Linked DNA regions of Homo sapiens: region 1 is linked to region 2. Evidence: fine-mapped expression QTL. A gene starts in region 2. The other region holds a variant in brackets. All regions are shown on one strand. Distances are from middle to middle.

Region 1 (4,381 bases), 21 kb after region 2:
TCCAGGAAGCTCTGCCGTTGGGTCACTGCACAGCCCCTGTCTTTTATGTGGCGTAGCCAGTTAGCTCAGTCCTGCGGTTGAGTCCACTAGACTTCTAGAAGGAACAGACTGGAGCAGGCTCCTCCTCAGGCTCCCTCCACTCTCCCTGGCTGCCAGTGCCCATCTTACCATTGGCATGGAAGTCCAGGGTGGAGGTTGCATTTCCAAGGGAGTTGGTGGCTGAGCACTTGTACTCCCCACTGTCAGTTTCCTCCAGGTCTCGGATCTCCAGGCGCAGGGAGTTGGGACCAGAGGTACCACTGAAGCGTGGGCTGTGATCACTGTCCCCGGAGGTGGAGGCCAGGATATGACCCCCATGTGACAGCACCAGTGTGGCCAGGGGCTCACTGACCACAGAGCAGTGAAGGATGCCCACAAGTCCCGCCTGGGTCTCCAGGAAGGCTGTCAGGACTGGAGTGAGAGGCGGGTCTGTGTGGAGACGAGAGGTGGGCCTGTCACCCTCAGACAAGGGCATTCCCTGGATACCCTGATACAACCCGTGACCTCTGCACCGCTTTGTCCCACACTGCCCTGTGAGAAGGGGGTGATCCCAAAGTGCCTGAGTGCCTGCTGAATACACTTTTGTCCTTGGCTGGGCTGGGTACGTCACTCTGTTGTCCCAGTCAGTGTTCAAGGCCACCCTGCAAGTGGGGATAAAAGCCCCACTTCAAAGATGAGAAAACTAATAGAGAGACCTGGTGAGGGACAGCACCTCAGCCAGGTGACCAAAGTGAGCATCATCAGCAATGGGACAAGCTGACACAGAGTGCCTCCTGACAGGGCAGAGCAGCATGTCCGCGGCCTTCCCACCCAGAGGGCATGGTCTCAGGCCATTCAAGTCAGGCAAATGTGGAGTGAGGGACCTCCTCAGAACAGCAGGCCTGCACTCTGCAAGTTTCAATGTCAAGAATGACAAGGAAAGACTGAGGAACAGTCTCAGACTAACGGAGAATGAAGAGACGCAACGACCCAATGCAATATGTGAACTGTGATTGTATTCTGGACCAGAAAAAAAATGGCTACAAAAGACAGTATTAGGTCCACTGGTAAAATGTGAATATAGATTATAGCTTAGATAACAGTCTTCTATCAGCCAGGTGTAGTGGCTCATACCTGTAATCCCAGTACTTTGGGAGGCCGAGGTAGGTGGATCACGTGAGGTCAGGAGTTCAAGACCATCCTGGCCAACATGGTGAAACCCTGTCTCTACAAAAACACAAAAATTAGCCAGGCAGGATGGTGGGTGCCTGTAATCCCAGCTACTCAGGAGGCTGAGGCAGGAGGAGAATCGCTTGAGCCCCAGAGGCGGACATTGCAGTGAGCCAAGATAGCACCATTGCACTCCAGCCTGGGCAACACAGTGAGACTCCATCTCAAAAAAAAAAAAAAGTCTTCTATCAATGCTAATTTTCCTGATCATGATCATTGCATTGTGGATATGTAAGAGAATGATCTTAGGAATTTAGCGGTAAAGAAGCCTCATGTCTGCAACTTCAGGAATATAAATATGTAGGTAGATACATAAATAACATATGCATATGTATATAGAGTGTCCATATATGTATAAGTGCACATGTCCACATAGAGTGGATGTGCATACACACAAGTGCACCTGTATATATGCAAGTCTATATCCATACATTTATATGTATGTATGTGCGTGTGTGTGTCTGTGTAGACAGCGAGAAAGATTAAGCAAATGTGCCAAAATGTTAATAAATGGGAAATCTAGGTTAAAGGTATATAATCATTATTTGTCTTTCTCTGCAACTTTTCATAAGTTTAAACTTCCAAATATAAAATAGGAGGGAACTAGGGAGGTCAAAGCATTGCCCAGGTGTGCAGAGCTGGGACATGAGCTCAAGGCCACCTCCAGGTAAGTGGCCTTGAAGTTCCCATGCCCAGGACCCCAACCCTTCCTTGGGGCTCCACCATCTGGTCCTGCTCTGACTGTGTCCAGTGCCACCCCACCCTGGCCTCTTACGGTTGACTACCACGCTGACAGGGCCCGAGCGCTCGCTGCCATGGACGTTCTGCACCTCACAGAAGTAGAAGCCAGTATCAGCCCTAGTGGCCAAGTGCAGCCGGAGGGTATGGGAGTGGGCATCCTCCAGCAGGACATGGTTCTTGTACCAGCTGTAGCGGAGATCACTGGGTGCCTC[A/G]TTGGGTGTGTTGCAGACTAGTGTCACTGTCTGGTTCTCCAGGATGGGACCTGCTGGGCTCACCTGGACCTCAGCCACTGCAAGGGCAGCATAGGGAGTGCTGGGGGGTCCCAGCCAACTTCCAGCCCCAGCCCCATACAGTCCCCGGGTCTCAGCCAATCAGCCTCAATCTCTGCACATCCTACACCACCCGCCTGCTGCTACAGGGGAGCCTCCTGGAGTGCTCTGCATCTCTTTGTCCTGCTCACCAGGATCCCCCTGACACCCCACCCTTCGTGGGGGTATTGTCACCTGTCTCATGGTAAGGCAGGGCTGGGACTCCACACCTGCATCCAGGAAGCACTGGGTTATGCCAGTTGCTGGCCCTGCCCTGCCCTGTCTCCCCTCCGTCCCTGAGGCCTGAGCTCCTCCCTATTCTCTGGCCAATACGCAACCTTCCCAAGAACTCACTGAAGATGTGGAGGCTGATGGGGGGTGAGACCAAAGAGCCCACGCCGTTCTCAGCTTGGCAGGTGTAGACGCCAGCATCGCTCCAGGCTGCCTGGGGCAGGTGCAGCACACCAGTCTTGGTTTGGAGGCGTACCCCATCCTTGAGCCACTTAATGGAACTGACTGCAGGGTAGCTGCTGTTCACCTGGCAGGTGAGTGTGACCAGCTCACCTGGAAGGATGTTCCTCCCCGAGGGGCTGAGGAGGATCTTCACACCCTTGGGGGCATCTGCAAGTCACAGTAGGGGGTATTGGGTAAGGTGCTTGGGGAGGGCAGAGGATGGCACACTTCTTCTTGCCCCCCTTTAAAAGCTCAGTCCTAAGGAAGTATGCCCAGATAAAACAGCAGTCCCCTTCAATCCTCACCCAGGGCATGCTCTGTCTGCCCATGTCCGTCCCTTTCCCGCCCCCTGCGCCTGATGCATTCCTATGCCCATTGAGAGCTGATCATGTGACGCTTGGCCAGCGTCCAGCCTACCCCACCAGCTGTAGTTTTCTGCTTCCCAATGCTGTCCATTGCTCCTGCTCTATTTGGGATGAGCTCCACACACAGGGTCATGGGTACCCCACTGCTAGCTTTAGTGGCCTGTGGAAGCTATTGGTAAGGGACCAACTACCTAGTGGGAGGGGGCCAAAGGCAGCATCAAACTAGCTCTGAAAATAGTTACCCAGTTTGTAAGCAAGAGGCCAACAACACAAAGAACTGCATTTCCTTAAATCTTGTTCCAAAGCCTCTCTCTGTGTATTCAAGTGTTTTATTCTTATTTTTTTAGAAAGAGGATCTGGCTCAGTCAGCCAAGCTGGAGTGCAGAGGCACAATCATAGCTCACTGCAGCCTGAAACTCCTGGGCTCAAGTGATCCTCCTGCCTCAGCCTCCCGAGGAACTGGGACTACAGGTGCAAGCCACCACATCCAGCTAATTTTTGTTTTTTAATTTTTTTGTAGAGACAGGGTCTCACTATGTTGCCCAGGCTGGTCTCGAACTCCTTGCCTCAAGCAATTCTCCTGCCTTGGCCTCCCAAAGCACTGGGGTTACAGGTGTGAGCCACTGTATCCGGCCTCAAGTGTTTAATATGTGCCAGGCACTCTTCTAAATCCTTGACCTGGGTCATCTCCTTTATTTGTTTTTGTTGTTGTTGTTGTTTTTTGTTTGAGACACAGTCTCACTCTGTCACCCAGGCTGGAGTGCAGTGGCACAATCACAACTCAATACAACTCCACCCCCGGGGTTCAAGCAATCCTAGTGCCTCAGCCTCCTTAGTAACTGGGATTACAGGCATATGCCACCACACCCGGCTAATTTTTGTATTTTTAGTAGAGACGAGGTTTCACCATGTTGGCCAAGCTGGTCTTGAATCCCTGGCCTCAAGTGATCCACCCGCCTCAGCCTCCCAAAGTGATGGGATTACAGGCATAAGCCACCGCGCCCGGCCCATCTCCTTTAATTTTTATCATAAATCTGTGAGACAGGAACCATCTATTGTTATCTTCGTCATAGACTGAGAAAACAGAGCCAGGCAGGAAAGGGATAAATCCCACCTCCCCAGCATCCTCCAGCACGGGGTAAATCCCGGGGCACTTGCTGCCAACCCTGAAGCTGCATGGGAGCTCCTGTTCCCCAACCCTTTGTGTCTCCCTTTCTCTGCCCAGCCTGGCCTCAAGGACAAGCCCCTTCGAAGCAGTAGGAGGTG
Region 2 (4,381 bases):
GGCATCCTTGGATCTGAGGAGCTATCAAGGAGGAGGAAAAGAGAAGGCTGGAAAGGGACAGCTCAGCTGGGGACACGGGAGTCCCCTGACCTTTGTCGGGGGGCAGGCTTGGGCTCGGCGATCACAAGGAAGAGGCCAAGGCCGCCAGTGCAGAGGGGAAGGAAAGAGCGCGGCAGCCTTAGGGATTTTTAGATGGGCAGCAGATGCCTTTAGGGTGAGAGATGTACGAAGAGAGGACACTTGTGCCCCCCCCATCATCTGAGAAAAACAACAGCCAGATGTTGCCTTGCGAGGTCCACCTTGCCCAGAGCTCCCTCGGGGACTCTGTCCTGGTGGCAGGGTTTTGGTACCCTGGCCCAGAAGGCCCCTCCTCATCTCTTCAAGGGGAGGGGACGCTTCTGGACGGAGCCTTGGTGCTCCCTGGCCGGGTGTGCCTAAGGGGGCTCTAGGAGGAATCCCAGAGCCAAGCATTACTCAGAGGGCGCCTGGAATGTTCCCCTGGAATGCTCCCAGCCCTCCACTGGCCCCAACCACTCTCACAGGCCCGCCCTGCAGGAGCCAGGCCCCAGGCACCCAGAGCCTGCAGCAGCCCTCCTTCCCCCGGTACCCAGTCCCAGCTCCCAGAACAGACAGCCTCCCCCCTCCACGCAGCCCTGGCCTCAGTCCTGCTGGGCTGATGGCTGCCTGTGGAAGTGACTCAGCTCCTGCTAGGCCACCCCAACTCCTTTTTTCTCCTCCACCTTCTCTCCCAGACTACAAACATCAAAGACCCTTCCTCCAAGAAGCCCTCCTTGATTGGATGAGTGAATTGCCATCAGGCAGATGAGGGCCGAGAGGAGTCTGCCACCTTGGAAAGGAGGCTAGAGGGGCCAGTGCAGGGAGGGCTCTGAGTGGATGTGGGGGAGGGGAAGGAGGGGAGGTCTCTCAGCCCAGAGAGCACTTAACTGAGAGTAGAGAACCAAGCTTTGCTGCTCCTAGGCCTCTAAGGGTTTGGGGAAGAGGTAGGGTGGGCCCGGGCACAGGTGTGGTGTGGGTGCAGTGTGGTGTGTGGGTGCTGTCCACATGGCCTTGCGCGCACGTGCTGGCCACGGGCACCCTGACCCCAATGAGGGAGAGAGGGGCAGAGCTGGAGCTGGAGCTGGAGCTCCGGTGACCGGGTGAATGGGGGTGGAACCCGAGGGAGCCAGGCTGGTATTGGGCACATAGACGCCCCTCTCCCAGGGGTCCCATCACCTCCCCTGACCCCAGGATAGGGCTCAGAGGGGAGGGAGCAGTGGACCGCCTGGGGCCCTCCCCTGGGGCCAGAACAGACCAGGCCCCTGTACCTGTTTGGTCCCCACACAGTGCTGTGGAAGCCACCGCCCAGTCTGCATAGCACAGCCCAGCCCCGCATGCCCCCTCCCTGGTTGCCCTCCCTGTTCCCGGCCAGGCACTTGCTGTGCAGGACTGGCTAATCCTCCCACCCGCTTGCAGAGGTTGTTCCAGCCCCATCTTAACATCTTTGTTTGGAGGGGTTACCCCGAGGAGACAGCTGCAGTCTTCCCAGAGCACTGCTAAACAGACACCTTCTATCTGGAGAGGCCCTTCTCTATCTCACCAAACAAGGCAACAATATAAACAACATACACACTGCCCTGCTGCCCTGGGAGGAGGGACGAGGGGTGAGCAGGGTGGAGGCCACAGCTAGTTCTGCAGCCTGAGAGCAAAGCAGGGACTCTGGGGGACTCTTGGGCATGGGGGCTTCCTAGAGGACGGAGCCCCGCTGAGTCCTAAGGGGTGGAGGAGCAGGAGCGGGTCACACGGTGGCCTGCGGATGGAAGCTGGTTGTGAGAGCGAGAATCCAGGAAGAGGGGGCTACGGCTATGGGCTGGGGGCTGGGCTGCCCCCGAGGGGGAGGGAGCCATGCCCTCTGCTTTGCCAGCGGAGTGGCAGCCGGGCAGTGTGGGCAAGTCCGGGCCCGGGGCCAGCCCAAGCACACTTGAGCGTCCCTGGGCAGGTCCCACGGAGACCCCCCCAAAGAGTCCCCACGCCCTGACCTACTGGCCGTATGGTGCCGGGGCCGTGAGACCCTCCGCGCGCTGACCCGAGCTCTGAGCAGAACCCATCCCCGCCACCACCACCGCGCCTAGCCTGCCCCTCAGGGCGCACCCCGCCCGCGTCCTCACCTTGAAGCACCCCGGCGCCTGGCACTGGCCAGAGCAGCAGCAGTAGTAGCAGCAGCAGCAACGGGGTCCCCCGAGCTCTCCGGGGCCTCCAGCCCATAGCTGTGAGCTCCTCGGCCTCTAGGCAGCGGCTCGCAACTCCGGCTCCGCCCAGGCTGGATTGCGGCCGACCCGTGCCCGGTGCAGCCTCAGGCCGCCGCCTTCGGACCTTCCCGCCCCCACCTCCCACCGCCCGCCCTCGCTCCCGCCTCCCCTCCCCGCCAACCCCGCTCGGAGCCTGGCCAGGGGCCCCGACGGCGCGCGCCATGGGGGAGCCGGGTCGCCACTCCCGGACCGCCGCCCCTCGAGGGGGTGGAGCTGGGCGGAGGAGGGAATCCGTGCGGCCCCTCGGATGACCGGCCCGAGCCGTCCCTCCCCGTCGGTCTCAGAGGGCCTCTACTCCTGAGAGGAGGAGAGAACCGCTGGGAAGGTTCTTGGAGGACCGCGGCGTGGTGGGATGAGGCGGTGGGCAAAGGCCGCCTCTCGCTGCTGAAGTTGGCCCCAGGAGCGCGATCTTCCGTGGTCTCCTGGGGCCGATCTCTGTCCCCTCCTTGCTACCCGTCCTGCCCCGAGGGTGCCCTGGCGGAGGTTGAGTCGGGTCATCCACCTGCACTGGGTGCCCCCAAGGATAGGAAGGTTCAGGCAACCGGCTGCCGCTGTCTTGGGGGCTTCATTGCTGGGCAAAGGCGATGCAGCAGACGGAGACAACCTTTCTTCCCTGGCGGTGGCCAGAGGGCAGAATTGCATAAAAGCTGCAGACTCCCAGGCCTGGGAGACCCTTTCGGCCTCAGTAACATCTGTTTCATGTTTTAAACTTTTGTTTTCCTACTCGGTGCAAATTTGGATGAGATGTTAACTTTTTTTTTTTTTTTTTTTTTGAGATGGAGTCTCCCTCTGTCGCCAGGCTGGAGTGCAGCGGCGCGATCTTGGCTCACTGCAACCTCCGACTCCCTGGTTCAAGCGATTCTCCTGCCTCAGCCTCCCGAGTAGCTGGGACTACAGGCGCGCGCTACCACCCCCAGCTAACTTTTGTATTTTTAGCAGAGACGAGGTTTCACCATTTTGGCCAGGATGGTCTCAATCTCCTGATCTCGTGATCCACCCGCCTCGGCCTCTCAAAGCGCTGGGATTACAGGCATGAGCCACCGCGCCCGGCCGGAGATGTTAACTTTTAAGCAAATCTTTTTTTTTTTTTTTTTTTTTTGAGACAGAGTTTCTCTCTTGTTACCCAGACTGGAGTGCAATGGCATGATCTGGGCTCACTGCAACCTCTGCCTCCCAGATTCAAGTGATTCTTCTGCCTCAGCCTCCCGAGTAGCTGGGATTACAGGCATTCGCCACCACGCCTGGCTAATTTTGTATTTTTAGTAGAGATGGGGTTTCTCCATGTTGGTCAGGCTGGTCTCGAACTCCCGACCTCAGGTGATCTGCCCGCCTCGGCCTCCCAAAGCGCTGGAATTACAGGCGTGAGACACCGCACCCAGCCTACTTTTAAGTAAATCTATTTGTTTTTGAGAATTTGGAATGTAGTAATTTGGTTAGTGAAAGTTCGAGCAGTGAGAGAAACCTACATTCACATATCTCAAAATCAAAAAGTACAGAAAGCATAGGGAAAAGTCTCCGTGCTCTTAGCCCTCCTCACCAACAGGAAACCAATATGATTAGTTTCTTTCATAGGCTTTTAGATTATTTTTTCACACTCAAGACAATACAGACATATTTTTTTCTCTTATTAACGTTTTTCTGCACTTTGATTTTCTTTTTTTTTTTTTTGGTCGCTTAATACACCTTAGATATCAGTGCGTTTAGAGGGTCCTTGTTGTTCTTATGATTATTATTTAGAGACAGGGTCTCACTCTGTCACCCACGCTAGAGGACAGTGGCCTGATCATGCCTCATTGCAGCCTTGAAATCCTGGGCTCAAGGTATCCTCCCACCTCAGCCTCCTGAGTAGCTGGAACTACAGGCACACGGCACCAGGCCCAGCTAAAATTTTTAATTTTTCTGTAGACAGGGGGGTCTCACTTTGTTTCCCAGGCTGGTCTCAAACTCCTGGTCTTGGCCAGGCGCAGTGTCTCATGCCTGTAATCCCAGCACTTTGGGAGGCCGAGGCGGGCAGATCACTGGAGGTCAGGAGTTCAAGACCAGTCTGGCCAACATGGTGAAACCCCATCTCTACT

Evidence for each region. PIP is the estimated chance that this variant, and not a neighbour inherited with it, causes the effect.
Region 1: its variant is the best candidate, but not a certain one, in a credible set for the expression of ADAM33 in breast (GTEx, PIP 0.81).

Annotation. Positions count from the first base shown.
Region 1 is chr20:3,701,174-3,705,554 of GRCh38, forward strand. SIGLEC1 (sialic acid binding Ig like lectin 1) reads right to left here. Exons shown (of 22, transcript NM_023068.4): 5 at 2,652-2,918; 6 at 2,024-2,278; 7 at 169-468. Among named protein-coding and RNA genes, the nearest start is that of SIGLEC1, 9.2 kb to the right of the region's middle. RefSeq lists an enhancer at 469-763. The variant A/G (reference allele first, on the strand shown) is at 2,202.
Region 2 is chr20:3,679,743-3,684,123 of GRCh38, forward strand. It overlaps ADAM33 (ADAM metallopeptidase domain 33), which reads right to left and starts at 2,268. Exons shown (of 22, transcript NM_025220.5): 1 at 2,166-2,268. The coding sequence starts at 2,262. RefSeq lists an enhancer at 1,693-2,586.